Homo sapiens: one gene and its partners. The protein of the gene in region 1 interacts with the protein of each later gene in a biochemical or structural test. Each region holds a gene or a part of one and is shown in the gene's direction. Other genes may lie near its edges. The genes, in order: SIPA1L2, REELD1, DGKH, TRAF7, GHRHR, AMOTL1 and RPS6KA1.

What was found.
Region 2: the proteins of SIPA1L2 (region 1) and REELD1 interact in a test that uses a peptide from one of them, tested with the Homo sapiens proteins (one large-scale study listed by IntAct).
Region 3: the proteins of SIPA1L2 (region 1) and DGKH interact in a test that uses a peptide from one of them, tested with the Homo sapiens proteins (one large-scale study listed by IntAct).
Region 4: the proteins of SIPA1L2 (region 1) and TRAF7 interact in a test that uses a peptide from one of them, tested with the Homo sapiens proteins (one large-scale study listed by IntAct).
Region 5: the proteins of SIPA1L2 (region 1) and GHRHR interact in a test that uses a peptide from one of them, tested with the Homo sapiens proteins (one large-scale study listed by IntAct).
Region 6: the proteins of SIPA1L2 (region 1) and AMOTL1 interact in a test that uses a peptide from one of them, tested with the Homo sapiens proteins (one large-scale study listed by IntAct).
Region 7: the proteins of SIPA1L2 (region 1) and RPS6KA1 interact in a test that uses a peptide from one of them, tested with the Homo sapiens proteins (one large-scale study listed by IntAct).

The regions. Positions count from the first base shown.
Region 1 is NC_000001.11:232,459,134-232,462,633, reverse strand, and holds part of SIPA1L2 (signal-induced proliferation-associated 1-like protein 2), read left to right. Parts: intron 1-1,472; coding exon 1,473-1,747; intron 1,748-3,500.
Region 2 is NC_000004.12:146,224,538-146,228,037, forward strand, and holds part of REELD1 (reelin domain-containing protein 1 precursor), read left to right. Parts: coding exon 1-71; intron 72-3,500.
Region 3 is NC_000013.11:42,047,158-42,051,447, forward strand, and holds the start of DGKH (diacylglycerol kinase eta), read left to right. Parts: upstream 1-1,490; 5' UTR 1,491-1,616; coding exon 1,617-1,808; intron 1,809-4,290.
Region 4 is NC_000016.10:2,169,282-2,172,781, forward strand, and holds part of TRAF7 (E3 ubiquitin-protein ligase TRAF7), read left to right. Parts: intron 1-1,332; coding exon 1,333-1,449; intron 1,450-1,982; coding exon 1,983-2,075; intron 2,076-2,290; coding exon 2,291-2,324; intron 2,325-2,909; coding exon 2,910-3,093; intron 3,094-3,183; coding exon 3,184-3,318; intron 3,319-3,500. UniProt on the Homo sapiens protein: E3 ubiquitin and SUMO-protein ligase that plays a role in different biological processes such as innate immunity, inflammation or apoptosis. Potentiates MAP3K3-mediated activation of JUN/AP1 and DDIT3 transcriptional regulators.
Region 5 is NC_000007.14:30,970,453-30,973,952, forward strand, and holds part of GHRHR (growth hormone-releasing hormone receptor precursor), read left to right. Parts: intron 1-666; coding exon 667-764; intron 765-1,510; coding exon 1,511-1,643; intron 1,644-3,500.
Region 6 is NC_000011.10:94,869,356-94,872,855, forward strand, and holds part of AMOTL1 (angiomotin-like protein 1), read left to right. Parts: coding exon 1-118; intron 119-1,333; coding exon 1,334-1,440; 3' UTR 1,441-3,500. UniProt on the Homo sapiens protein: Inhibits the Wnt/beta-catenin signaling pathway, probably by recruiting CTNNB1 to recycling endosomes and hence preventing its translocation to the nucleus.
Region 7 is NC_000001.11:26,546,761-26,550,260, forward strand, and holds part of RPS6KA1 (ribosomal protein S6 kinase alpha-1), read left to right. Parts: intron 1-106; coding exon 107-223; intron 224-428; coding exon 429-510; intron 511-3,500. UniProt on the Homo sapiens protein: Serine/threonine-protein kinase that acts downstream of ERK (MAPK1/ERK2 and MAPK3/ERK1) signaling and mediates mitogenic and stress-induced activation of the transcription factors CREB1, ETV1/ER81 and NR4A1/NUR77, regulates translation through RPS6 and EIF4B phosphorylation, and mediates cellular proliferation, survival, and differentiation by modulating mTOR signaling and repressing pro-apoptotic function of BAD and DAPK1.

The DNA.
Region 1 (3,500 bases):
TCAAGTTTTAGTTACTTCAGTTCATGACTTTAGAAACGTCAATATTCTAAAACATCATCACTAACTAAAACCAGCAGTCCCCTTTCCGCATTTTGCTGAGTCGTGAACTGTCATGCCTGTCTGGGAAAAGCTGATTGGCATTGTGTGCACTTGTGGTAACCATGGAAACATCAGACACAGTGGTGATACATGAACCAGCCCCAGTCCCACAGCTGTACTTACTGTCATAGGTCTTATTAAATAGGTATCTATGTAGTCAGAGCATGTTTCATAGAAATGGAGTGTTCATTAAACTGAAACTTCATACATTGCCTCTGGGCTTTTGGGGATAGGAGTATGATACCTCCCAACTTGAAATTCCCACAGATAGGTGAGGTCATAGTCATCGGGTGATACTTAATGAGCCCATGTTTTTCTTTCATTGGATGTAAACTATGCTCGGTGAGTGCTTTTGAGGGCTGCATTAGTGGTGCTTTAATGTACCAAGTGGGATGCAATCCACCATTCTTCTTTCATGTTCCTTTTTGTGGAACTGCTGTTGACTCTCTCTCACTCTTGAGTAAGGTACATACACTGAGGCTTCCATTGCTTGGGGCTGCCCTCAGCCCCTAGGAGACAGGCCTAGTGGAGGAGAGGCAGCCCATAAGCACAGAGGGTCTGTCTGCTGCCTGCCAGAGCACCATCCTACACACTTGCCTTGTGAACAGATGGCCAAGGAGTCTGGCTGGCCTGCCCCCACCATGGATCTGAGTGGTCCTCACCACTCAGGCAAGCATAGGCAGTTGTCTGTCCTCAAGAGAAGGACCCTAGGGGACAGAACACTCCACAGTATGTCCCTAGGGCTGGTGCGTAGAGAACATTTAGAGTTTTCCTAAAGCTCTGACTTTCTGCCACTGCCCTTCCTGAACCTCAGAGTGGGCTCTTAAGCGTTAGCTTTCAAGTGCTTTGGGGTGTTTTTCTTTGCTTGGGATGAATAAATTGTCTCATGGTTTTTAGTGCTTGCTGGTTGAAACTTGTAATGGTCCACAAAGTCTTTACAGGTTTTCCATTGCAAAAATCCATCTAGAACGATGGGATTTATATGCTTAAAAGTCAAGTCAATTTACCTAATAAAGGAAAAACGGGAATTATCTGAGCCCATCTGAAGCTCTCAAGCTCTGGGTCAGTGACATCTAAGAAAGCAGGACACCTGTATCAAGAACAGATATGACTTAGAATGAAGAATGAAACCATTGCTTTGCTTCTGTTATTTTCTTTGCACTTGATGCAAATGTTAATTGTGATCAGCTCTGAACTTAAATGTGTCCTTGTCCTGTCACTTGGACAGTTTGAGGAAAAGGCAGAGAGAGACAGGCTGGGCTGCGAGGGCCCAAGGGAGAGGGCTGGCATGGAGGCCCATACGTGCACCTTTGGCAGAGCCCCATGGCAGCTTGGGCAGGAAGGGCATCTCTAACAGTCTCCTTCCCCCTTAGATAGTGACGAGAGGCTGCGAGACTGTGGAAATGACCCTGAGGAGGAACGGGCTGGGCCAGCTTGGCTTCCATGTGAATTTTGAAGGAATTGTCGCAGATGTGGAACCTTTTGGCTTTGCCTGGAAGGCTGGCCTTCGCCAAGGGAGCCGCCTCGTGGAGATCTGCAAAGTAGCCGTGGCCACTCTGACCCACGAGCAGATGATCGACCTGCTCCGTACTTCTGTGACTGTGAAGGTGGTCATCATCCAGCCCCATGATGACGGCTCGCCCCGAAGGTAAGGCGTGGGAGGCCCAAGTAATGCTCACTCCTCCTTTGCCTCTGTAGCAGGTGGCTGTCCTCAGTGCTCCTGCAAGGTCCTCAGAAAATGCAGTCAAGTGTGTCTTTGTACAGTGTTCTGGGATGTCACTCATTTGTACAATGTTGTTGGGATGTCACTCGTTCGAGGAATTGAAAAGGAGCTTTAAAATATGTAATAGATGATAAAAAATAATTTGCTAAGCATTTTAATGGAACATTGACTACATTAAAGCTGAGCTATTCTGAACTAAGGGGAAGAGCACCTGCCTGGTTCCCCTGGACCTCTTATATCTAAGAGGAAATAATTCTGTATCACAGCTCAGCCTTGAGCACATTAAATACTTAACTATTCAGTTAGAATTTCTTCCCATAACATGAAGCCATTGATTATTTAAAAAATATTTAACAGACCAATAGTTGTAGGTATGAAAGAATGTTGGAACAGCACAGGTACTCTCTGTGGTAAATACTCCATTCTCAATTGAAGCTTGAGAGATGTTGAACTGGTTCAGGGCGTTATCATAAACTGTCAGGAGAAATAGATGAAAAGGAACGGCTAGACTTGGAAGGTTCAGAGGCGGATAGGTGGAGGGCTGGGATAAGAACGGGGTTAGAAAGCAATACTATTACATTACTAATAGAAAATAATCATGCCCAACATAAAATATTAGGCCAAAAGGAGAAAGAATGCTAATTAAGAAGGAGCCGTTTATTGAGGCTGTGGCCCACTACTTGTGTTAATGCATGACTGGTGGTAGTATCTAGAGCACCTTCCCTCTATCTTCATTCCCAAATGGAGTTCGTACAGGCAGCCTTAAGAGCTCTGGCTTTTGAGAGACAAAGTATGCTTGGAATCCAGGAATTTGCTGTGTGGCCTGGGGCAACTCACACACTCTCTCTAAGTCTCACTTACTCTCTGTAAGATGGGATTATTATATCGCCTACCTCCTATGATTTCAATGAAGATGAAATAAAGTAACACATGTAAAGCACTTAGAACCTTCTAGCATAATTGCCCCACACATTTAATTTAGAAAAATAAAACTTTAGGGGCTGGGCGCTATGGCTCACACCTGTAATCCCAGCACTTTGGGAGGTCGAGGTGGGCAGATCGCTTGAGCCCAGGAGTTTGAGAGCAGCCTGGACAACATGGCAAAACCCCATCTCTTCAAAAAATACAAAAATTAGCCAGGTGCAGTAGTGTGCACCTGTAGTCCCAGCTACTCAGAAGGGGAAGGTAGGAGGATCCCTTGAGCCTGGGAGGTCGAGGCTGCACTGAGCTGAGATCGTGCCTCTGTACGCCAGCATGGGTGGCAGAGTGAGACTGCATCTCAAATAATAATAATAAATAAAACTTTAGCATATTCATTTTAATTTCTTTCATATGAAAAAATAAATTCTGATTATCCAAAGATAGTAGGATTGTTGGGTCTACTTTCTGGACTTACTAACCTAGGTCATACTCTCTCCTTTCTCTGTTTCCTTTCTTCCTCCTTTAAGCCAGCACTCTCCATTAGCACTTTCTACAGTGATCTGTGTCTGTACCGTTCAGAGCAGTAGCCACAAACCACATGTGGCTATTACGTACATGAACTGTAGTGCAACTTAGGAAACGAATTTTTCCTTTTAATTAATTTACATTTAATTGGCCACGTGTTGCTAGTGGCTGCCATATTGGATAGATCAGCTAAACCATGATCTCCTTTTAGGAAAAAAAGCCACTTACACTG
Region 2 (3,500 bases), on another chromosome or scaffold:
CCGCATGGAGCCCAGATTGCTGATGCCAAACCTTCACCAGAGGCTGGGCGATGTTGAAGGAGCTGCTCCAGGTACAGCTTGTCATTGTATTTGCCAGGCTGGTTGTCATCATTATTTTTACAGTTATCTATTTTCACTTAAAAGTTACTACTGCCAGTTTCCTGTTCCTGCAAAACAAGCAATAAACACCTGCCGTGGCCAACTGCAGCAGTTCTTGGGGATGTGATAACGCAGCAGTGAGAGGGAGGGAACGCTTGCAGTTGCTTTGTTTGTTGCAGCAAACACACTTTGTCTGGCTCAACCTAACACATTAAGTCAGGCCCCAGGGTGGACAGTGAGAGCTGTGCTGCAATACCAAAAAACAGCATACACCTCTTCCCCCAACATTTACTAGTCCTCACAATATTTCTGCTGTTTTCCTTAGTCCCCTGAAGCTACGCAGGGAGCACAAAAAAGAAATGAGCTTTTCTTCGTCTTTTCTCATAAAAACGCATCCAGTTTTTATTGTTACTTTTCATAGTAGGTAGGTGGCTCTTTGCAACCTGGGTTGGAGAACAGAATCAGGAATCACTGTTTCAATGGGAAGGGATTTTTCCTTGCTCACTACATGGCTTTATATTCCATTAGTCCATGAACTCCTGAAAAAAGAAAAGAAAAGCAACAAAACAAAGGAAAACCACTAGCCAGCTAGAGGCTGTTTGACCTATCTGAAAATCCCTGGTGGTATGGAACTCCTTTTTGTTGTTTATTTCTAGTTAAGTGCTATGAACACAAGCACTCGTAAAAGCATCCAGACACATGCACACAAGACCCTACCCTTAATCCATTCATTCTCCTCTTCGCTTATTCTTTCCTTTACTCTTTGCTAATATGTTAAGGCCAGAATCCAATCAGAATCCCTGCCTCTTCTCAGTCTAGCAGACCCAGGTACAGAGACAGTGGGGACCACCCTCCATTCTCTGCCTTTGCCCCACAACCTTTGTCTTCTTCTATTACCCAGCACAACTCCTCCAACCTTCCCACCAAGACACTCCTAAAAGCAGAGTAAAGATCTCGGAGCCTGAGACCATGGCCTGGAGAAGACCCTGCACCCCTGACATATGTTTGAAATCTCATGTTTTATTTTATGAATGATGCAAGTATCATGTTTTAATCCCAAGTATAACCATGTTTGTTTGAACATGAATATGAATAAAAGTGAAGCTTCAGGAAGAAGTGTCATGTGGAGCCTTGGGCCTTTCTATGCCTGACTCCGCTGGAAACCTTGTCCGCTGGGGGTTGCAGCCTCCAGCCCAAGCAGTTTACAGGGTAACCTCCTCATTACACTGCCCACATTCCTCTCCTTCTGGCCCCAGCCTGTCTTCCCCATTTGTTCCACTACCCAAACCCTAGTGATTCCCAAAGGAAAAAGAAACATGTATGTATGCTTGTGCACGCATGTATGTATTTATGTGCATGCGTGTGTGCATGTGTGTGTGTATGTATTCTGGGAAGTTTGTCTTTGTACAGTTAAGAAATCTATTTCACCTTATTTCATCTAATAAAGTGAAATAGGTTTCTTAACTGTACAAAGAATTCGTAGGCAAGTATAAATTATAAATTTTCAAAATTGGGAAATTAGTATATTGTATATCTGAAACTTATCTCCCAATAGACCAAGACACTTTGAGTCCTCCTCCACCCCATTAGGTATGGTCTACTTTTATATTTTAGTGCCTTCCCTTCTGACACTTCCTCAAACTGGACTGTTCCACACAACAGTTCTCTGCGTCTTTCAAGGCACAGTTCAAATATCTCCTTTGTGAAACTTTTCCTTATACTTCTTGGTAGGCAAGTATCTTAGTCTATTCCAGCTGCTATGACAAAACATCCTAGACTGAATAATTTATAAACAATAGAAATGTATTGCCTACATTCTGGAGGTTGGGAAGTCCAAGATGAAGGCACCATCAGAATAAGTGTCTGGTGAGGGAGGGATGATCTGTGCCTCAACAATGGTGCGTTCTTGCTGTCTTCACATGGTGGAAGGGGTGAACAAGCTCCCTCAGTCCCCTTTTATAAGGCTACTAATCCCATTCATAAGGGCTCCACCCTCATGACTTAAGCACCTGCTAAAAACCCCACCTCTTTACACTATTGCATTGGGGATTTGATTTCAACATATGAATTTTGAGGGGGGCACATTAAGACCATAGCGGCAAATATAATTGCTTCCTTAGCTCTGGTATTAATTGATTAATTAATTAATTTTGAGACAGAATCTCTCTCTGCTACCCAGGCTGGAGTGCAGTGATGCAGTCTCAGCTCACTACAACCTCCACCTCCTGGGTTCAAACGATTCTCCTGCCTCAGCCTCCAAGTAGCTTGGAATTACAGGCATGCACCACTGCACCCTGCTAACTTTGGTATTTTTAGTAGAGAGACAGGGTTTCCCCACGTTGGCCAGGCTGGTCTCGAACTCCTGACCTTAGGTGATCTACTTGCCTTGGCTTCCCAAAGTGCTGGGATTACAGGCGCGAGCGCCCGGCCTCTTTATTAATTTAGGTAGTTTGACATGTAAGGGTGTCTCTTCCCAGTTTTGAGTTCAGGGACACCAATTACAAGTCTGCATTATGTTTGCATCTCCAACAACTATAACAATACCCAGCACACAGCGGGTCTGCAGGAAATATCCAAATGCTCTTAGAGTTCAGGCAGGAATTTGAAACTATCAGTTTGCCATGTTCTGTATGTCTGGGCTAGGCTGCTTTATTCTTCACCTCAACGTTTTTGAGTGTTAAAAACATTGGAGCAAAGGGGTACCTCCTCCACCCCCATAAAGAACCTGGAGCCCTGGCCAGAGAAACTTCTGCCAACACTGTTTTGGTCAATGCCATCATGTCATCCTCATCATCATTGTGGTAAACCCTCTGTGCATGTTGCCTGTGTACCTGTGTGCCAGGCACCTGCTTCACGCTTCCACCTCAATGAGTTCATGTCAACCCCTCAGCAATCCTATGCTGGCCTCATTTTGCAAATGAAGAAACTAATGCTCTGGGAGGACTTCCCCAAAGCCAGAAATTAGTGGACGACTGAACCCAGAAAAGAATCTGACTCTAAAACCTGCACTTGCTTGCTTGCTGCTCCATGTGAAGCTCTTTCTCATGCTCTGGGCTGTCAGGTTAGCCAGTCACAAATGGGAAATTAGATGGTGGAGGGCATTGAAGGGCAGTGATCTCGTCTCTTCTCATAGCAGATGTTCAAGTCATTATCACCAGAGAAAGAAACTTTGAGTGTTAATATTAGGGCAAGAAAGATCTAGGGCTTTGAAAAGTCTTGATTTGTGGGATTTCACTCCTTTTTCTAGCTAGAAGCAGTTTTTGGCAGAGGTGAAATAAATATGGTGGTCACAGTGCTTTCTGTGTTCCCTGAATGGTGGCTGTTAAGAAGGTACAAGCCCAGACAGGCCAGGGACTCACTCTCTAAAAAGATATAAGCCCTTGCGTGGTCAGGGGCTTGTA
Region 3 (4,290 bases), on another chromosome or scaffold:
ATAGCAGCAGTCTCCTGTCTTTAAATATTTGAACTAAACACATTTTACATTTTAATGAATTTAATTTACAGTGTGATGTCCAGTATTGGGATTGCATACTATTTCTTAAAACTTCTTAGAACTGTTAGCTCTAATATATCAAATTTCTTGTTGGGAGTAAGACTGCAAGTTAAAAAAAAAAATTAGAACCTTAGTTTGGAGGAACCTTAAAGGTCATGTCAACTGAAAAAATACGAAAGGAATGGTACTGAAAGGCATGAACATAACAGAGATTGAATGCTTTCTCCAGGTGGAGAGACTCCACAGTCTGGCAGGGACTTTTTGTCCTATTTAAAAATATAGCTAACACCAGTTTGGTGTTCTCTTTGGATGACAAGAGGGATCTGTCGTTTTAATGTCTTCTCTCGCAGCCCCCTCACCGCAGCCCCCTCACACCTGTGAGGCTTCTTTGACGTTGAGCGTGCACAACCCGCTGCCAGTCCGCGGTTCCCAAGTGCCCGCGCAGCCAGCTTGCAGGGGAGTTGTGCGCGGTGGCTACAGCCTGTTGATCCCACTTCCTCCTGCTCTAGTCCGGGCTAGGGAGTGGCTCTGCCAGGACTTCCAAGGCTTTTTGTCTCGGGTACTGGTGTTCGCATGGCTCGAGTGTATTGTTTTCTTCCAGGCAATCTCGGTTAGCGCTTCAGCTTAGACACTTCTTGTGCGTTCTGTCGTCTTGGGCTGCGTGTAGTCTCTTGTTTCTGCGCTTTCTCCACGCCCTTCCCAGTTTCCTGTTAGCCGAAGGGGATCGCTCTTTCTGAACGAAAAGTTCTCAGAGCGGAGCTGAACCTCCCGGAAAATGCTCTTCTCTTCCGTGTGCGCCGGATGGGGGTGGGGGTGGGCCAGAAACTGAACGCCGCCGTCAGGAGAGCTGAGGGGACCCGACGGCCCTGGCGGAGGCGGGAGAGGTACGGTCCTCGGAGTGGGGCTGGGGGTGGGGAAACCGACGAGGGGCAGCCCCCGACTGTCTTGGTGGCAGAGGGGACTTTTATTCAGCTGGAACCGCGCGGCGAGGCCCAAGTGTCTCTGGAGAGATTCGGGGTTCAGGAGGTGGCGGGTGCACCCAAGGGTGCTGGGAGGAAGCTCCAGGTTCCCATTCTTCCCCAGGGATCGGCGTTGCCCCTGCTGTCCAGAAGTGAGAGGGGGTGTGCGGGCATCGCCACTACGGGGTGGGCTGCAGAGGTTTCCTGCCTCCCCCACCCTCCTGTCCATCCTAGGGACCCAGACCGTAAGGGAGTGGAAGAGATGTTGCTCCAAACCCTGTCACCCCATCCTCTCTACCCGCGCTGGTCCTATCCGAGGCTGGGTGCGCAGGGGTCCGAGGCGGGCGGGGGTCCGTTACCTCTGCGTCCCACCGTGGCCGCCGCTCCGGCGGGAACCGAGCGGAGGAGCCGGGTGGACCCCTGCCTGGAGGGCGCCTGCCCCGGGCGACCCTTACCTCGCGGGGGTAGCTAGGGAAACGGAAGATGGCGGCGGCGGCCGGGCACGGGGTTCCGGGCTCCGCTCGGGCAGAGCCCACCCGCTGACCAACGCCGCCGCCCCCGCCGGGCGGTGCTGTGTCCCCGCAGGAGTCGGAGAGGATGGCAGGGGCCGGAGGCCAGCACCACCCTCCGGGCGCCGCTGGAGGAGCGGCCGCCGGAGCCGGCGCCGCGGTCACCTCCGCCGCTGCCTCGGCGGGGCCGGGAGAGGATTCGTCTGACAGCGAAGCGGAGCAAGAGGGACCCCAGAAACTGATCCGCAAAGTGTCTACCTCGGGGCAGATCCGGACCAAGGTAGGGCGGAGGAGGCGGGCCTGAGGGCCGCGTGGAAAGCGGGAGGTGGAGAGGGCGCGGGGGCGCTGGAACGCGCCGGGCGATCCCGGGAAGGCGGGGAAGGCGGGGAAGGCGGGGAAGGCGGGGAAGGCGGGGAAGGCGGGGAAGGCGGGGAAGGCGGGGAAGGCGGGGATGGTGAGACGGTGAGGCGGGGCGGGGCCTGGGGCGCGGGCGGGGCGGGGAGGGGTGGGGCGGGGCCCGGGGGCGCTGGACCGCGGTGCTGCGGGACGGATTCCCGGCGGCTGCGCGGGAGGCTGCGAGCCTGGGCTCCCAGGGAGTTCGACTGGCAGAGGCGGGTGCAGGGAACCCGCGGCTCGGCGGGAGCGTGGGAAAAAGCTGACGCGCAGTCGCGAGTTCCTACTTAGGGAACTTAAAAGGAGAGTTTCAATTTTTCTTCCCTGCCGTTCGGGGGAGCGTGCGCATGTGCTGGCCAACCAGCCTGCGCTGCAGTGAGCCCTGCTGCTTTCCCACTTAGGCCCACTCAGAGGGTGGGTGGAAGGTGACACCGGTCAGCCTTTCCTGCCCCTCTGCCTCCTGCTGCGGTCTGGAAGGCAGAAGCCCCGAGGCAGGCAAGTGGGACATGGTGTTCGCGGCTTAACCGCACCCTGCATGGCTCCAAGGGCTGGCCAGGCTTTCGTGTCGCAGGTTCCCGCCAAGTGCAGGCAGGGTTCAGAACCATGCGTCCATGGTTCTTTTTAATAATGAGAAGTTACCTCTGTGCTGTGTGGACATTAGGATGGTGTGTTACTCTTGTTAATGAAGCTTGTGCTGTCGACCTGTGAGGTCTCAAAGTTAATTTTTAATTTGATCATGAACATACCAAAGCAAATGCTTATGGATATTAAAGGATTTTTATGTATTCTAATTTTCATTGTAATTTAAAAATCTTCACAGAGAGAGTCTGTTATCAGTAGGGAAATTTAACGAGGATATTGAAAACGGAACCACAAAATCATTGGCTTGGGGTACCGTTTTTAAAAATAAATTTGCAAAAAATTCATTCTACAGTTATTTTTATGAAAAATTTTCCCTAAGGTCAATGAACTCCTATTTGGAAACATAATTTTTATTCAGTGCCTGTGGAGGCCGGTAACGGTGGCTCATGCCTGTAATCCCAGCACTTTGGGAGGCCAAGGCAGGCAGATCACTTGAGGCCAGGAGTTCCAGACCAGCCTGGCCAACATGGTGAAACCCCATGTCTATTAAAAATAAAAAAATTAGCTGGGCTTTGAGGCGTGCACCTGAGATCCCAGCTCCTCGGGAGGCTGAGGCAGGAGAATCGTTTGAACCCGGGAGGCGGAGGTTGTGGCGAGCAGAGATTGTGCCACTGCACTCCAGCCTGAGCGACAAAAAAAAAGCTAGTGGATTAATGTTTGTAGTAGCCTGCCTCCTTATTTTCTGAAATACATGTGTGTAAGAACAACACACAAGAACAACTGTTGACAAGATGCACTTACTAAAGAGTTAGGGATTCAGTCACTTTAGTTAAGAGTACATCTTGTAACTCCTTTTAATAGTGACGTTTTTGAGTTTGTAGTAAATTAAGAATATGGCATTTAATGTGTTTTTTAAGATTAAGGCTTTTACAAAGTTAGGGACTTTCCTAAAAGTGTTTTTAATATTTCAAATCTTAATTCTGAAAAAAGTTCATAAACTGTGTTAATGATGGGCAAAATGGCAGGTAAAAAAAAAAATTGTATAGGGGCCGGGCATGGTGGCTCACGCCTGTAATCCCTGCACTTTGGGAGAACAAGGTACCTGAGGATCACTTGAGCCCAGGAGTTCAAGGCTGCAGTGAACTGAGATCTTGCCATTGCACTCCAACCTGGGCAATGAAGCGAGACTGTCTCTTAAACAAACAAGCAAACAAACAAACAAACGTGTATGTTACATATTTATATGAAATGGTCAAAATTCCATGCATACTTATATCAGGATTAACCAGTAGATTTATACTGTTCGAAAGAAAACTGAGAGATGGCTCTAAATTGAATTGAATCATGTCAAACAACAAATTTGTTGGGAGTACCACTGTATTTTATAGGTTTCATGCGCTCGTTGTAATAGCTAAGATTATATGCTTATGGAGACTACAAGTAAATTTAAAAAGCACATTATTTGTGATTTTCTATCTGACTTTCTAATAAAAACATTTAGCACATACATTTTGCCATGAGAGATCATTTTTGACTATGAAATCAAATATTGCTTGAATTTCAAAAGTGTATTGAATGTCAGAAATTCAGCATTTTACAATTTCTCCTATGTTAGAGTGCATGTAAGTTCATCAACATTTTCATATATGAACACTTGAGATCAGGGTATAAGATTCTGAGACCAGTGAGCTTCAACCTCATACCCCGCCTCCTGCAACTGGACTGTTCATGTATGTCACAGACTTCATTATTTACGTCTTTTATCACATATACTGATTCTTGGGGAA
Region 4 (3,500 bases), on another chromosome or scaffold:
CCAGAAAAGAAGTTTTTAATTAATTGAACAAACACACCTGTGTGCCGGGCGCTGTGCTAGGCCGAGGGCGAGTTGGGTATGTCTGGGCCCCGTCCCCTGGGCCTCTGCCTGCCTCGGTCTCCACAACCCGAAGCCACGAGTCCTCCATGTCTGTGGTTCCCATAATCACCTGCTATCCCCATGGGTCACGGTGGCTTTCAAGAGAGGCGGGTACCTTCTCTGTTTGCTGATAGGCCCACACAGGGAGTCCCCCTCCTGCCCTTCCCCCGTCCCCCAGGCCTGCCTGCTGTCAGCCCCTACGCCCAAGAGGGTGGGAGACTCTGGGGTAGTATTGGGCAGGCCCGGGAGAGTGGTTCCCGTGCCAGCTCCTGCTCTGCTCTCGCCCCTGGGGCTCCCTCTGCTGCTGTGGGGCCTTGTGACTCACTTTCTCTGACTCCCTTCTGTTCCCCATGTGCTGCTTCCATGCAGACGGGCCCTTGGGACCCAAAGGGAGGTGGGTACATGGCACACAATGCCCCCCGCCGGCCTTGGGACTGGTTTGCCTCTGTGCTCTGTGGGTTTCATACCCAGGCTGCCGGGAAGGGGGCCAGAGGCTCGGCAGAGCAGCAGCTGGGCCCCTCTGCAGTCAAAGCACCAGGAGAGAAGCCTTGGGCAGTGTGGCTCTTGGAAACTTCTGGAGGTTTCCAGGCCAGAGGGGAGGAAGGGACAGTGTCTGCCCCTCCCCCAGGCTCCCTTGTCGGTGGCTCAGCCAGAGGCAGGCACCTGTGGCCCTCACTCCTGCCCTCGGGAAGCTCAGCCGAGGTTCTCTGGGGGCCTGGCCCTGCCTTCCCTCTGAGCCTCCCAGCTGGGCCTGGTGTCCCCCACCAGCAAGGCCAGACAAGCAGCCAGGCCCGGGGGGCACCTGGAGCCCAGCCGTCGCTCCCTGCCAGCATTCCTGGCCCTTCCATCCTGCGGTCACGGCCTCGGCTGTCCAGGATTGGCTGGTGGAGGTGCCCCCTCACGGCCCACATTCCCCCACGGGAAGCAGGAAGCAGCCCGGGTATATGGAATTGAATAGCAGGAAGTCTCTCCATTTACACAAAGAGAGGTGGCAGGCGTGAGCGGGCAGCCCAGCACCCCGGCCCAGGCCGCCCAGGCGGGCAGGCAGGGACCTGGGTTGCATCAGCTCCCCACGCCCACCCACGGCCCCCGTGGACGAGGAGAGTACCCGCAGGGACCGGGGTGGCCCCAGGGGTGCTGCTGCCCTCGCGCTTCCGCCGGGCTGGGTCCTGTCCTCCCCGAGGCTCTGACCCCGTGCGGAGCCCCCCGACAGGCGCCTCTCCCTCCACACAGCCCCCCATCAGCACTCCCCGCCGCTCCGACTCCGCCATCTCTGTCCGCTCCCTGCACTCAGAGTCCAGCATGTCTCTGCGCTCCACATTCTCACTGCCCGAGGAGGAGGAGGAGCCGGTAGGTGTGGGGGACTCGGCGCAGAGCGGCTTCCAGGGCTGTCACCGCAGCCGTGGCACGGAGGCACCTTCCCCTCCGCCATGCCCGCCCAGCTCACAGGGAGAGGGCGGCTGGGGCCTGACGGGAACTGCAGTGCTTGCTGGTCCGTGGTGGGGACTCGAGGGACCAGGCCGGGTCCCCTGGGCATGTTCCCCCACTCCCCCTTCTCAGGGCTGCCCGGGAACTGGCAGCGGGAAGCACAGGGCTCCAGCAGGGCCCTTTCTAGTCTCACCCCAGGAAGGAGGCGGGCGAGGGCGGCCAAGGCTGGGCGGCTGAACTCATCCTCCGGGGTTGGGCCCTGCCTCTGGGGCCACAGACCTCGCTCTCCCTCCTGGGCCCCGATCAAGCCCCCCAGCTCTAAGCAGGCCTCTCTCAGGACGTGACCCTGTCCTCAGAGGACAGCCAGGCCTGGAGCAAGAGCGCCTGGGTGCCTGGGTGGTGGCGGGGCTGAGGGTGGCCTCCCGCCATCGCCTGCCTTTCCCGCTTGGTTCCAGGAGCCACTGGTGTTTGCGGAGCAGCCCTCGGTGAAGCTGTGCTGTCAGCTCTGCTGCAGCGTCTTCAAAGACCCCGTGATCACCACGTGTGGGGTGAGCCCGCCGCCCTTCCCAGCCCCCCTGCTGCCAGAGGCCCCCACAGGACCCCAGGGCTCTCGGGGGCCGGGGCTGTGGCGCCCTGGCCTTGGTCAAGGCCTGTCCTGGCTGCACTGGGCTTGGGGTACAGCGAGGCCTGTGGCTGCCATGGCCATGGACTAGGGAAAAAGAGGACCCTGCGCCACCCTCAAGCCCGCCCTTTGCCTCCACAGCACACGTTCTGTAGGAGATGCGCCTTGAAGTCAGGTAGGTTTGTGCCCCGGCCCAGGCCTGACGCCGACCGTGCCCATGGCTGCCGAGCAGAGGCGGGCGGCTTCTCCCTTGTCCCCTGCACAGCGTCCGGCCCTGTTTGGCCTCTGCTGGGGTTGGGATGGGGCTGCAGCCGTCCTAGGGACGCTCAGGCTGAGGCTCGGGACCTCCATGAGCAGAGTGGGGACACCCCAAATTCCAGTGTGTCCAGACTCAGAGACCCCACAGTGGGTGTGGGCCGAGGCTCCCCATGCCAGGGTTGGCACCCTCTGGGGAGGCCTTTCTCACTGGCGAGGCTGTCGTCCTCCCGCACGGCGCCCGCTCCTGCCTGCCTCTCCGCACTCTGCCCTCTGCCCTCTTGGCCCCACCCCACACTTTTCCGGGCACAGCTGAGTGTCACAGGTGACACTCCCTCAGCACCTGCTGCTCCTTCTTGGTGGCCCACCTGTGCCCCCGTTCCCATGTTGCGTGCCTCAGAGGCGCAGATGGACAGATCTGGCCCCCATTAGAGGCTCATGCCCACCCGGGTGAGGGAGCGTGTGCCAGGCAGGCCGTGAGGGTCAGCACGCCCTCCTCTCCCAGAGAAGTGTCCCGTGGACAACGTCAAACTGACCGTGGTGGTGAACAACATCGCGGTGGCCGAGCAGATCGGGGAGCTCTTCATCCACTGCCGGCACGGCTGCCGGGTAGCGGGCAGCGGGAAGCCCCCCATCTTTGAGGTGGACCCCCGAGGGTGCCCCTTCACCATCAAGCTCAGCGCCCGGAAGTAAGTGCCCCTCCCTGGGCACCTCTGCCTCCCTGGGGGCTGCTTCTCAGGGCTCTGGCTGAGGCCTCCCCGCATCCCGCCCTGGCACAGGGACCACGAGGGCAGCTGTGACTACAGGCCTGTGCGGTGTCCCAACAACCCCAGCTGCCCCCCGCTGCTCAGGATGAACCTGGAGGCCCACCTCAAGGAGTGCGAGCACATCAAATGCCCCCACTCCAAGTACGGGTGAGTGGGGGGCGGGCGGGGGTGGGCCGGGGTGGGCGCAGGCCCTCCACAGGCTCCGCTGAGAGCTGCCCGCTTGCTGGTCCCGGGGAGGTAGGCCGGAGCTGGGGCCACACCGGGGTCTGTAATCCTCTCTGAGGCCCAAGGCCCTGGAAACCCAGAGGGGGAGCCGAGGGCGTCCAGGA
Region 5 (3,500 bases), on another chromosome or scaffold:
TCCCAAACCCATCATCCCATTTCTCTGTCCCCTTGATCTCTGAGAGGTAAAGCATGACTGTAACCATTTTTCAGATGGAAAGACTGAGTCAGGGACAGGAAGTGATTGCCTGGACCCCACAGGAGAGCTGGGATTGGGGCCAGTGCCCAGGCCCCTGCTCCCTTCCCTTGCCTGCACCCTCTATCTTCAGGGCCAGGCTGGACTCTGACTGATCCAAACACTTGGCCACGGAAACCTTTTGCCTGCCTGCCTGTGGCTGTCCCCAGGTGTCCCTGGCTATCTCCTTTATTTGGATACATTGTGTTCCCAAGCTGGTGAGCAAGCTGGATGTCAATAAACAAGCTGATTTCCTCTTGGGCTTTTGTCATTCCCCAGGGACATGTAGTTTCTGCGGCTGCCTCTCCTCACCCTCAGAGCATCATGAATGTTAAGCATCTCCACTCCTCGCCACTACCCCTCCCTCACCCGCAGGTCAGGTGGAAGGCAGGCTGTAAACTAAAGCTCCAGTGCACAGGGGGAGCTTTCCATGGTACTCGCGGACACCTCTGCCTCCAGATGGGGAGTGTTGGGGTGGAATGGCAAAGGCTTCACCTGCTTGATTGTCAAGCCTCTCTTTCCTCCAAAGGCCCAGAAGCTGAGACTTTCTTCTGTCTCTGCCCTTCCCAGGAATCTTACTTCTCCACAGTGAAGATTATCTACACCGTGGGCCATAGCATCTCTATTGTAGCCCTCTTCGTGGCCATCACCATCCTGGTTGCTCTCAGGTTTGTCATCCTCATCACCAGCTCAAGAACCTTCCTTGGCTCCTTATTTCCCAGAGGGTCAAGTCTGCTTCCTTGCCTACATAGCCATGAACTTCCCAGATCTAGGCGCCATACCCATGTCTAACTTTCCCTTCCCTTTTCCCCACCATGTAGACCCATCTCTTCAAACACCAGAACTCATTCCTACCTCTGCCCCTTTGCTCACGTGGTGCTCATTCTATTTGCTTGGAATTCCTCATTGTTCTCAGTGTATTTATAACTGAGAAAGCCCAGCTCCTATCTGCATCTGACAGTCCTCTGCCTCCTGCCCAGAGCCCCTCTTGACTGTTATAACTCTCTGACCACTGTCCCCTTTAAGACCCCACCCCCTCCTCCAGCCTTCGAAGTCTGAGCACTGCATCTGGCCTGTGCTGTTCTTGGTCTCATGGGGATGAGTGTCTCTGATCATCCAGGGGGCTCCCATGGGCAGTACCTGCCGTTTCTGCCTCTGTTCCCTGAGACTGTGAGCACCCTCGAGGCAGGGACCAGATATTCCTCTCTTTCCACACTTACCCTGAGCACAGGAATGGTTGCTCAGCTGTCCTGCAAGGGTTAAACTGAAGCCTCAAGTTCAGCTCAATTCAATTCAGTTTGATTGCATCCAGTTTGATTCGATTCACCTCCTGCCCTGTTCAGCCCAGTTGCAGCACACCAGAATCCCCTCTCCCTGCTTGCTTCTTGTTCCTCATTTCTCCCATTACCCCCAGGAGGCTCCACTGCCCCCGGAACTACGTCCACACCCAGCTGTTCACCACTTTTATCCTCAAGGCGGGAGCTGTGTTCCTGAAGGATGCTGCCCTTTTCCACAGCGACGACACTGACCACTGCAGCTTCTCCACTGTAATGGCCATGGGTGAAGGGGCTGGGCAGGTGGGGGAGAGAGGAGGTAGGATTACAGACCCAGATGTGCCTGCGTCAGGCTTCCCTGCCCTGTGGGCTGACCCTGGGGCTCCCGCATGGCCAATTACAGAACAGGAAAATGCTCCTTTCCCATGTCACCCCCTAAGTCCTCACGCCTTTCCTGGACTGTGGTGTCGATCCATGTCATTTCCCATATTGCATGCTCTACTCCGCGTTCTGTAGTCCAACCTAGACCACGTTTCACTATGCACAGCCTTTTCCTTTCCTTTCACCCCTCCCTGAGCACTCATAGGTCTGTGCTGGGGGTGTGTACGCAAGGGGCTGGGAGGAGCTGGGTCCCTCCTTCAGGAAGAGCCCATGGGACAGAATGCACACAGATTAGGGGACTCCCAAGTGGAGGAAGCTGAGAGCTAGGAGAGAACGAGAGGGGGCTTCAGGGAGGAGAGGACCCTGGAGCTGTATTGGCAGCAACAATAGGGAGATGGGGAAGGAGAACATTTCAAGAGGAGAGACCAGGGTGAACAAACTCTCAAAGACAGGAGGACCTGGGCCATGTCCAAGAAACTGGGAAGGCACCATGGGAGAGATGGGGTGGAGACAATAAGAGGCAATTGAAATTAAAGGGAAGTTGGGCAGAATGTGGAGACCCAGCACCTGCTAGATCCTCTGCAAGTGTGCTGGAAATGAACAGCGAAATCAGGGAGCAAACTAACACATGACCTCAATTAACTGATGAAAGAATTAATCATACTTCATACTGAGCACTTATTTTGTGCCAGGCATTGCACTAAGTGCTTTACATATGTAGTTGTCCCTTGAACAATGTGGGTTTAGTGGTGTTGACCCCCCTTTCAGCTGAGAATTCAAGTATAACTTTTGTGTCCCCCAAACTTAACTATTGATTGCCTACTGTTGACCTGAAGCCTTACCAATAACATAAATGACCGATTAACACATATTTGTCTGTTACACGTGTTATATACTGTATTCTTACAATAAAGTAAGCTAGAGAAAAAATTTTAAGAAAATCATAGAGAAAATAAAAATTGGCTGTTTTTAAATGGAAGTGGATCATCATGAAGGTCTTCATCCTCATCGTCTTTATGTTGAGTAGCCTGAGGGGGAGGAGGAAGAGAAGTTGATCTTGCTGTCTTAGGGGTGACAGAGATGGAAGAAAATCTATGTGTAAATGGACTTCAGCAGTTCACACCTTTGTTGTTCAAGAGTCAGCTGGCATTATCTCTTGAATTTTTAAAACAGCTTGAAGAAGAAAGCATCACTTTAATCCCATTTTGTAGAGGAGAGACAGTTGGCAAGGTCACCCAGTGGCACACGGGTGGGGCTGGGATCAAACCTGGGCCAACTGAACTCAGAGGTGGTCCTGCTCCCCTGCCGGCAGGTGATCAAGTCATGCAGTGAGTGAGTGAATGCACGGGTGCCTGTGTGTGTTTTTTGCAAGACAGAGCTGTGGCTGAATAAGTCACAGCTCTAGGGATTGACTTCAGCTCAGGAAGGATGGGGGTAAGTGAAAATAGAAGCAAGTCTTAGGCAGTTTCCATTTAATCCTTATGATGAGGACTTGATCTAGGTATTGGAGGTTTTTCCTTTTACAGATGAAAAGCTAAGGTGTGAGGAGATTTGCACAGGAAATAGATAGTAAATTAGAAGCCAGGCTGTCTAGATACCAAATCTGTGCTCTTAACCCTCACTGTATATCACCACATCCCCTCTTGGGTGGCCCAAGGAGCTGCAGGTCCCAGCCTAACATGGAGGGGCCTGGAGGTTCTGTATCTGAGTAGGGTAGAGGAGACTGGGATGGGGCTCCAGTGGGTGTCC
Region 6 (3,500 bases), on another chromosome or scaffold:
GCCGAGCTCTTCTGGCCCAGCATGGCCTCCCTTCCCAGCCGCGGCCGGCTGAGCACGACCCCTGCTCACAGCCCCGTCCTGAAACACCCAGCGGCCAAAGGGACCGCAGAGAAACTGGGTATGTGGGCTACCCCACCTTGATGCCCCTGAAAACTGTGGAACTGTCTGGCCTAAGAGAATCTTTTGTTGAGCTAGAGAGGAAGCAGGGGCACCCATCAGCTCTTACTCTATGGGGATGCTATTCTAATGCACTTAGGATATGTGTGCCCTTTCTTATTACGGGAATAAATATGCATATAGACACATCTAGTTTATTACTATTTGAAATGAGTGCACGGCTTGAGACTACCCTGGCAATGCATACTTTTTAACTAACCTTTCCCCGGATGGAGTGACAACAGACCCTCTAAGGGGCTGAATGCCCTCTGGTATGTTTGGGAGCCAGAATTAGGCACCAGGTACATCAAAGGCACAAGTTCACTGTTGCCTTCAGGGCTCTAACTTACCAGGGATTCTGGCCTCAGTGGAGGACATTGTGATGGAAGGAGAAGGTAGATTGACCTGCAGAGTCGGTTAACGTGTGGCACAGCACTTGGGCCAGGACTAACGAGCTGTTTAAAATATTTACGGGAAGACAACTTGGGAGAGGTGATCTTTGCAGTGAGTCCCTAAGTGTCCTGGGTAAGAATAGACCTGGCCTCTTAAGGCACTCCTCTTAAGCAAAGGAGTACCATGGCCATGGTCAGTGGGATCCCACAAATGTTCTTAAATGGGTAAGGCTTTAAGTAGCCAGAGAGTACCCAGCCTACCATTGGCTTCTCCACATCCTAAAACCTGAGACTAATCATGGTCATGGGGACCTCCCTTTTCAGGAATTCTTTTGAGGAGGTGCAGGCTCTGTGGGCCCTAAGTTAACTGTTTCCTCCAAGGGGGTTGTTTATTTCATTTTTCAAAGTAGACAAGTAAATACAATGTTGTCACTTTTTAAAGATGTGATTCTTTTCCAAGTAAGCCAGAGAACCTGTCAAAAGTGCCTAGCTCAGAATATGCACCTGATAGTTTTGAGTAGAGGGTGTGAGGGGCTCCTGTACAGAGTCCCACTGTCATCCTCACCTTCTGAATCCTCTCCCTTCACCATCCTGGTTTGTATTTGTGTCTGAATCCTGGCCCAGTCATTCTGCATGTTCCCACTGTGGGCTGGATCATCTCACATGCCCTGTGGTGAGAATCCTGGGTGTGCAGTGGTATCGGACGTGGGTCCATTTTAGAGAACCTGGAAAGCCTATGCCCCTCCTGAGGAATGGGCAGCTGATGTTTCCCCTCTATTTGGCAGAGAACTCTCCTGGCCATGGGAAGTCGCCTGACCACAGAGGCCGGGTCAGCAGCTTGCTGCACAAGCCCGAGTTCCCTGATGGAGAGATGATGGAAGTCCTCATCTAACTGCCATCCCTGTGGAATTTCAGTACAGAACACTGACAAACAAGGAAAGCGGCAGAGAAAGAAGAAAGACCTAGAAGGTTGTAGATGGGAAATCAGGAATGATTTGAACTGATAAAGATTTCAGACTCATAAGAACACATTTTATAAATGTTAAACACAAAAACTACATGACTGAAGATAGAAGAGAATGCGATGGATTTTATTACACATGGTGGAAGAGAGAAGAGGCGTGTAGGTTTGCAAACAAAGTTAAGAAATAGGAAACTGAATTTTTCATTGTACAGAAAATGTATCTCTTGGGGAGGGCCTGTGTACCCCCATTCTCTGATTATAAACAGATAAACCCAAATGTGGATCATCCTTGGAATACCCCCATTCTCCTTGCCTCTTAGCATGTTTGATTTAAGAAAAGCCTCCAGGAAATCTTGAGAGCCTGTCTTGGCATAATGCAGTGTCACCTGTGCCAACCATGGGGTGTCCCGTGAGTGTGAGTGTGGCAGTGAGAAGAAGCATCGAGGGCGAGGGGAATATGAAAGTTGGTCTTCACCTAATTACCTGTTTGGTTTGGATTTTCAAGAGATGATTGGGCTTCTTAGCTTTTCTGAATTCTGCAGTATTTTCTAAACAGGATAGATTATGATCTCGGTCCCCATCCATCCTAACTTCTGAGTTCATCTCTGTCTCTGCTTTACAGTCTTTAATTTTTTGTTGTTCCTTCATTTTTTTCTTTTTAATAAGACATAGCAGAATTCCTTAGGTATGGGATTTATGAGACCAGTACCTGAACTGTCATCATTCCTACTGTGTTTGATAGTGACCAGTAGGACAAAGCCACGTGCCGACTTCCTGGCTGCTTCACCTTTGCATAGCTGGGTTGCAGCTGCGAACCTCATTCTGACTGTGAACTAAGCAAGCTTTGAGGAGGCAGGAGATTCCGTGGGTCCCTGTGACATATTGCATTAAGATCGTGGCACTTGCTTTTTTGTCTTTCACATCGGCTGTCTTGCAAGGAGCTTGACATTTCCAAATTCCATTGCTCTGTTTGGGGAAGACTTAGGACAGCACTCCAGGAAACAGATGACAATTTACAGACAGTTGTCTCAGTGGTTTCCAGAATCTCACCAGCCTCCCGTATAGCTTCTTGTATTGAGGCTCATGAGCGTATTCACACTCTTTCCTCCCCCGCGCACGCCTCTGCTTGCTCTCGATCAGCATCCAGACCTCCGTGGCACCAGGTTGCCTCTGTTGTGAACTTCTTTTGTAACCTACCAGGCCAGTTGTATATACAGTGTTGTCAGGTTTTTCCGGGTTTCAGTTTTGAGGCAGTTTATTCAAAGTGAGACAGAAGTGCCACGGAAAAGAGGCAGGAGTGTGTTAGGTGGTGGGTCCATTAGACCTCTGCTGTGACATTGCATATTCAGCTCTGCAGACACTGGCTTCCTTTACAAATCTAAGAGATGCTGGATTAGAAAAGAGGAGAAGCTCATCGGGCCATCAGAGAGATGCTCCTACAGGGTCCTGATGTTTTTGTACCTCCAGGTCAGCTGGATCGCTGTTTTCCCAGTTCCCTTTGCTCATGCTTACTTAGAGGAAGAAAGAAAGGGGGGTACCTCTTCCAAGTACCTTCTAAATGAAACACTCAAGAGAGTGCTACTCAGGAAACTTTGCTTGGATCCTAAAATGGACTGGTCTTGGGTGTGTAACCCCGGTGAAGTTATAGCCTCCCCAAATTGAGGTGACAGAAGGAAGACAAGAGGTGTAAGCTGGAGAGGGAAGGGAAGAAATCAGTGGCTTTGGCCAGCCTCTGTGCCACCCAGTACGACAGAGGAGTGGGAACTGGCCCTCTGGGGCTCTGCTTGGCCATAGGCACTGCACATTGTGCCACCTGCTCATCACCTCCTCTAGTCTCACACTGAGCATCGGAGTACCTGTTGTGCAGACAGGAAAACTGAGGAGCTCTGAGAGGCTGAGCATGGAGCTCACCCCATGCCATAGGGTGTGGGAAGAGGGCACAGGAGGCCTCATCCATGGGGGAAAGGGTTGAGGATGGACATGGGTGG
Region 7 (3,500 bases), about 210 Mb from region 1:
CTTTAGGTTCCATCTGCTGTGGTCTGGTGGGAATGGACTTGGGCAGGGGAGCCTCCTGCTGCCTGGATGGGGCCCACCATGCCCACCAGCTCTGTCCCTCCATCAGGATGAGGGCGTCCTCAAGGAGATCTCCATCACGCACCACGTCAAGGCTGGCTCTGAGAAGGCTGATCCATCCCATTTCGAGCTCCTCAAGGTTCTGGGCCAGGGATCCTTTGGCAAAGTGAGTCATGAGCCCATAGCTGTGAAGGCAACACTCGTCATGTTAGAGGTGGGGGTCAAGGGTCACCTAGGGGCCCAAAGGATCAGAGGTCACCTTGGTACCCAGGGAGAGCAAAAAGGTCAGCTTGGGGCTCAGAGAAGATAGAGGTCAGCCTGGACTCAGACCTCTCCCATCTTCTGCCCTGCTTCCTGCTCTGCCTTCTCAGGTCTTCCTGGTGCGGAAAGTCACCCGGCCTGACAGTGGGCACCTGTATGCTATGAAGGTGCTGAAGAAGGCAACGCTGAAAGGTGAGTGGGGACACCTCCCTGTGCAGAACCCAGGCTTGGCTGAGGGAGGCAGCCCAGACTTCAAGGGCCTTGGGTCTGGCAAGGGAGACAGCTCTGTCTTCAGGAGCACCTAGTTCAAAGGTGGAGAAACAGGCCTATTTCTCAGCTATCCCTCGCCAGCCAATCCTCCTCCCCCTAAGCCAAGTGCTAGTGACTGGCTGTGAAGGTCTGGAAGGTGGTAATAGGGTAAATGCAATGTGTTTGTCAGGGGGCGGGGCCCTCAACTACCAAGCTGGTCAAGCAGAGGCATTCTGACTGTTGATGCTAGAAGAGTCTGGGGGAGACCTCTGTGGCCCCTAACTCAGGGGCCTGAGAGAAGGGCGTGAGTGAAGAGGCAGGGAGCCCAGGGAGGCAGCTGGGCTAGGCAAGAGAGGGTGAGTCCAGGCAGGGCCACAGAGCTGGATGGCAGAGAGGTTCAGAAGGGAGCCCCGAGCCAAGGTTAGAGTTCTGGGGACTTACAAAGGGTGTGAAGATGGTTGGTAGTGGGCTTTGGGTTGGATACTGACCACTTGGCCTGGGAACCAGTGTGACCACTGACCCGGCAGAGTCATAGCCAAGTCTCTCTTTAAATAAGTCAAGGCCGGGCGCGGTGGCTCACACCTGTAATCCCAGCACTTTGGGAGGCTGAGGTGGGCGGGTCATTTGAGGTCAGGAGTTCAAGACCTGACCAACATGTTGAAACCCCGTCTCTACTAAAAATACAAAGAAATGAGCTGGGTGTGGTGGTGTGCACCTCTGATCCCAGTCAGAGCCAAATCCTAGCTGGGGAGGTAGTGGGGGCAGTAGGAGGCGTCAGCCTTAAGGACGTTATGGGTGGCTTTGGTATCCTAAGGCCAGCCTGGTGGGTGTGGAAGTCATCCCCCAGGAGGTATGGTGGCAGCTTCAGAGGGAGGAGAAAGATGAAAAGCCTGGGTCCCTGCTGTGAAGGGCTCACAGGCTGGGCAGGAGAGGCTAAGCATACCCGACAGTGTGGTGCAGCCGGTGCTGTGACTGGTGTGCGTGGATATCCGACGCGCTGGGGAGCTGGGAGTGGTGGTGTAGTCTTGTAGAGGGTGGGCCCAGAGGCCAAGGGGACACCTAAGGAGCGGGAAGCCTTGGAGGATGAGTGGATTTCTCTAGACCAAAAATGTTTGAGGAAGGGGACCCTGGGAAGGAGAAACTGTTTGCCTGAACTAAAGTGTAGAGGTGGTTTGAAAATGTAAGGTAAGCTGGGTGCTGTGGCTCATACCTGTAATCCTAGCACTTTGGAAAGCTGAGGCGAGTGGATCACTTGAGGTCAAGAGTTCGAGACCAGCCTGGCCAACATGGGAAAACCCCATCTCTACTAAAATACAAAAATTATCTGGGTATGCTGGTATGCACACCTATAGTCCCAGCTACTCAGGAGGTTGAGGCACAAGAATTGCTTGAACCCAGGAGGTGGAGATTGCAGTGAGCCGAGATCGCGCCACCATACTCCAGCCTGGGCGATGAGAGCGAAACTCCATCTCAGAAAAAAAAAAAAAGAAAAAAGAAAATGTAAGGTGACCAAAATAGTTAACTCCGGTGTGGTCCTTGTCATGTCTAATGAGGAAAACACAAAAATTAAAACAGAAGAAGGGGACCAGCTCCTGCAGCCCTGTGTGCTGACATAGAAGGTGTGTTGGAAGGCAGCTGCAGCTTCTACTTGTAGCAAGGGCCAAGGATTGTGTCCTGAACAAGACTCCGGAAAGACATGCAGGAGGAGTACATTGGCCAGATCTCCTAAGATAAGCAGCTGTGAGCATCAATTCTGGAATGGCAGTGACGAATGAATAGAATTCATACTAGATGGATGGACTAGTGAAGGCTTTGGGACTATGAGGCTGGAGAGGAAACTGCCAATCCAGTACATGGACCAAAAAAGCCTTTAGTTTTGCATTGTGTGTATTGCTCAGACATTTTGTCTGGTCTTAGTAAGCACTCCCTAGCCTTCCACCTCTCCTTTTAATAAAAGTCAAGGCTGGGTGCGGTGGCTCATGCCTGTAATCCCAGCACTTTGGGAGGCCAAGGTGGGTGGATCATTTGAGGTCAGGAGCTCAAGACCAGCCTGGCCAACATGGTGAAACCCTGTCTCTACTAAAAATACAAAAAAAATGAGCCAGGTTTGGTGTGTCTGTAATCCCAGCTACTCAGGAGGCTGAGGCACTAGAATCGCTTGAACCTGGGAGGCAAAGGTTGCAGTGAGCCAAGATCACACCACTGCACTCCAGCTTGGGTGACAGAGTGAGACCCTGTCCCATTAAAAAAAAGTCAAAGGACACATGAGAGGTCTCAGTCAAGGGGTAATCAATATTGTGATAAACTTAGTTGAAACACACTGCCCAAAATGAACCTAGGCAGCCATGTCCAAAAGCCTGTTCTTTTTTTTTTTTTTTTTTTTTTCTTTCCCGAGATGGAGTCTCACTCTATCGCTCAGACTGGAGGGCAGTGGTGTGATCTCGGCTCACTGCAACCTCCGCTCCGCAGGTTCAGGCAATTCTCCTGCCTCAGCCTCCTGAGTAGCTGGGATTACAGGCACATGCCACCACGCCTGGCTAATTTTTGTATATATATTTTTTTCTTTTTTGAGACGGAGTTTCACTCTCGTTGCCCAGACTGGAGTGCAATGGTGCAATCTCGGCTCATCACAACCTCTGCCTCCCGGGTTCAAGTGATTCTCCTGCCTCGGCCTCACGAGTAACTGGGATTACAGGCCCACGCCACCACGCCTAGCTAATTTTGTATTTTTAGTAGAGACAGGGTTTCTCCATGTTGGTCAGGCTGGTCTCAAACTCCTGACTTCAGGTGATCCGCCTTCCTCAGCCTCCCAAAGTGCTAGTATTACAGGCATGAGCCACCACGCCTGGCCAATTTTTTTTTTTTTTTTTTTTTGAGGCAGAGTCTCACTCTGTCACCAGGCTGGAGTGCAGTGGCGTGATCTCGGCTCACTG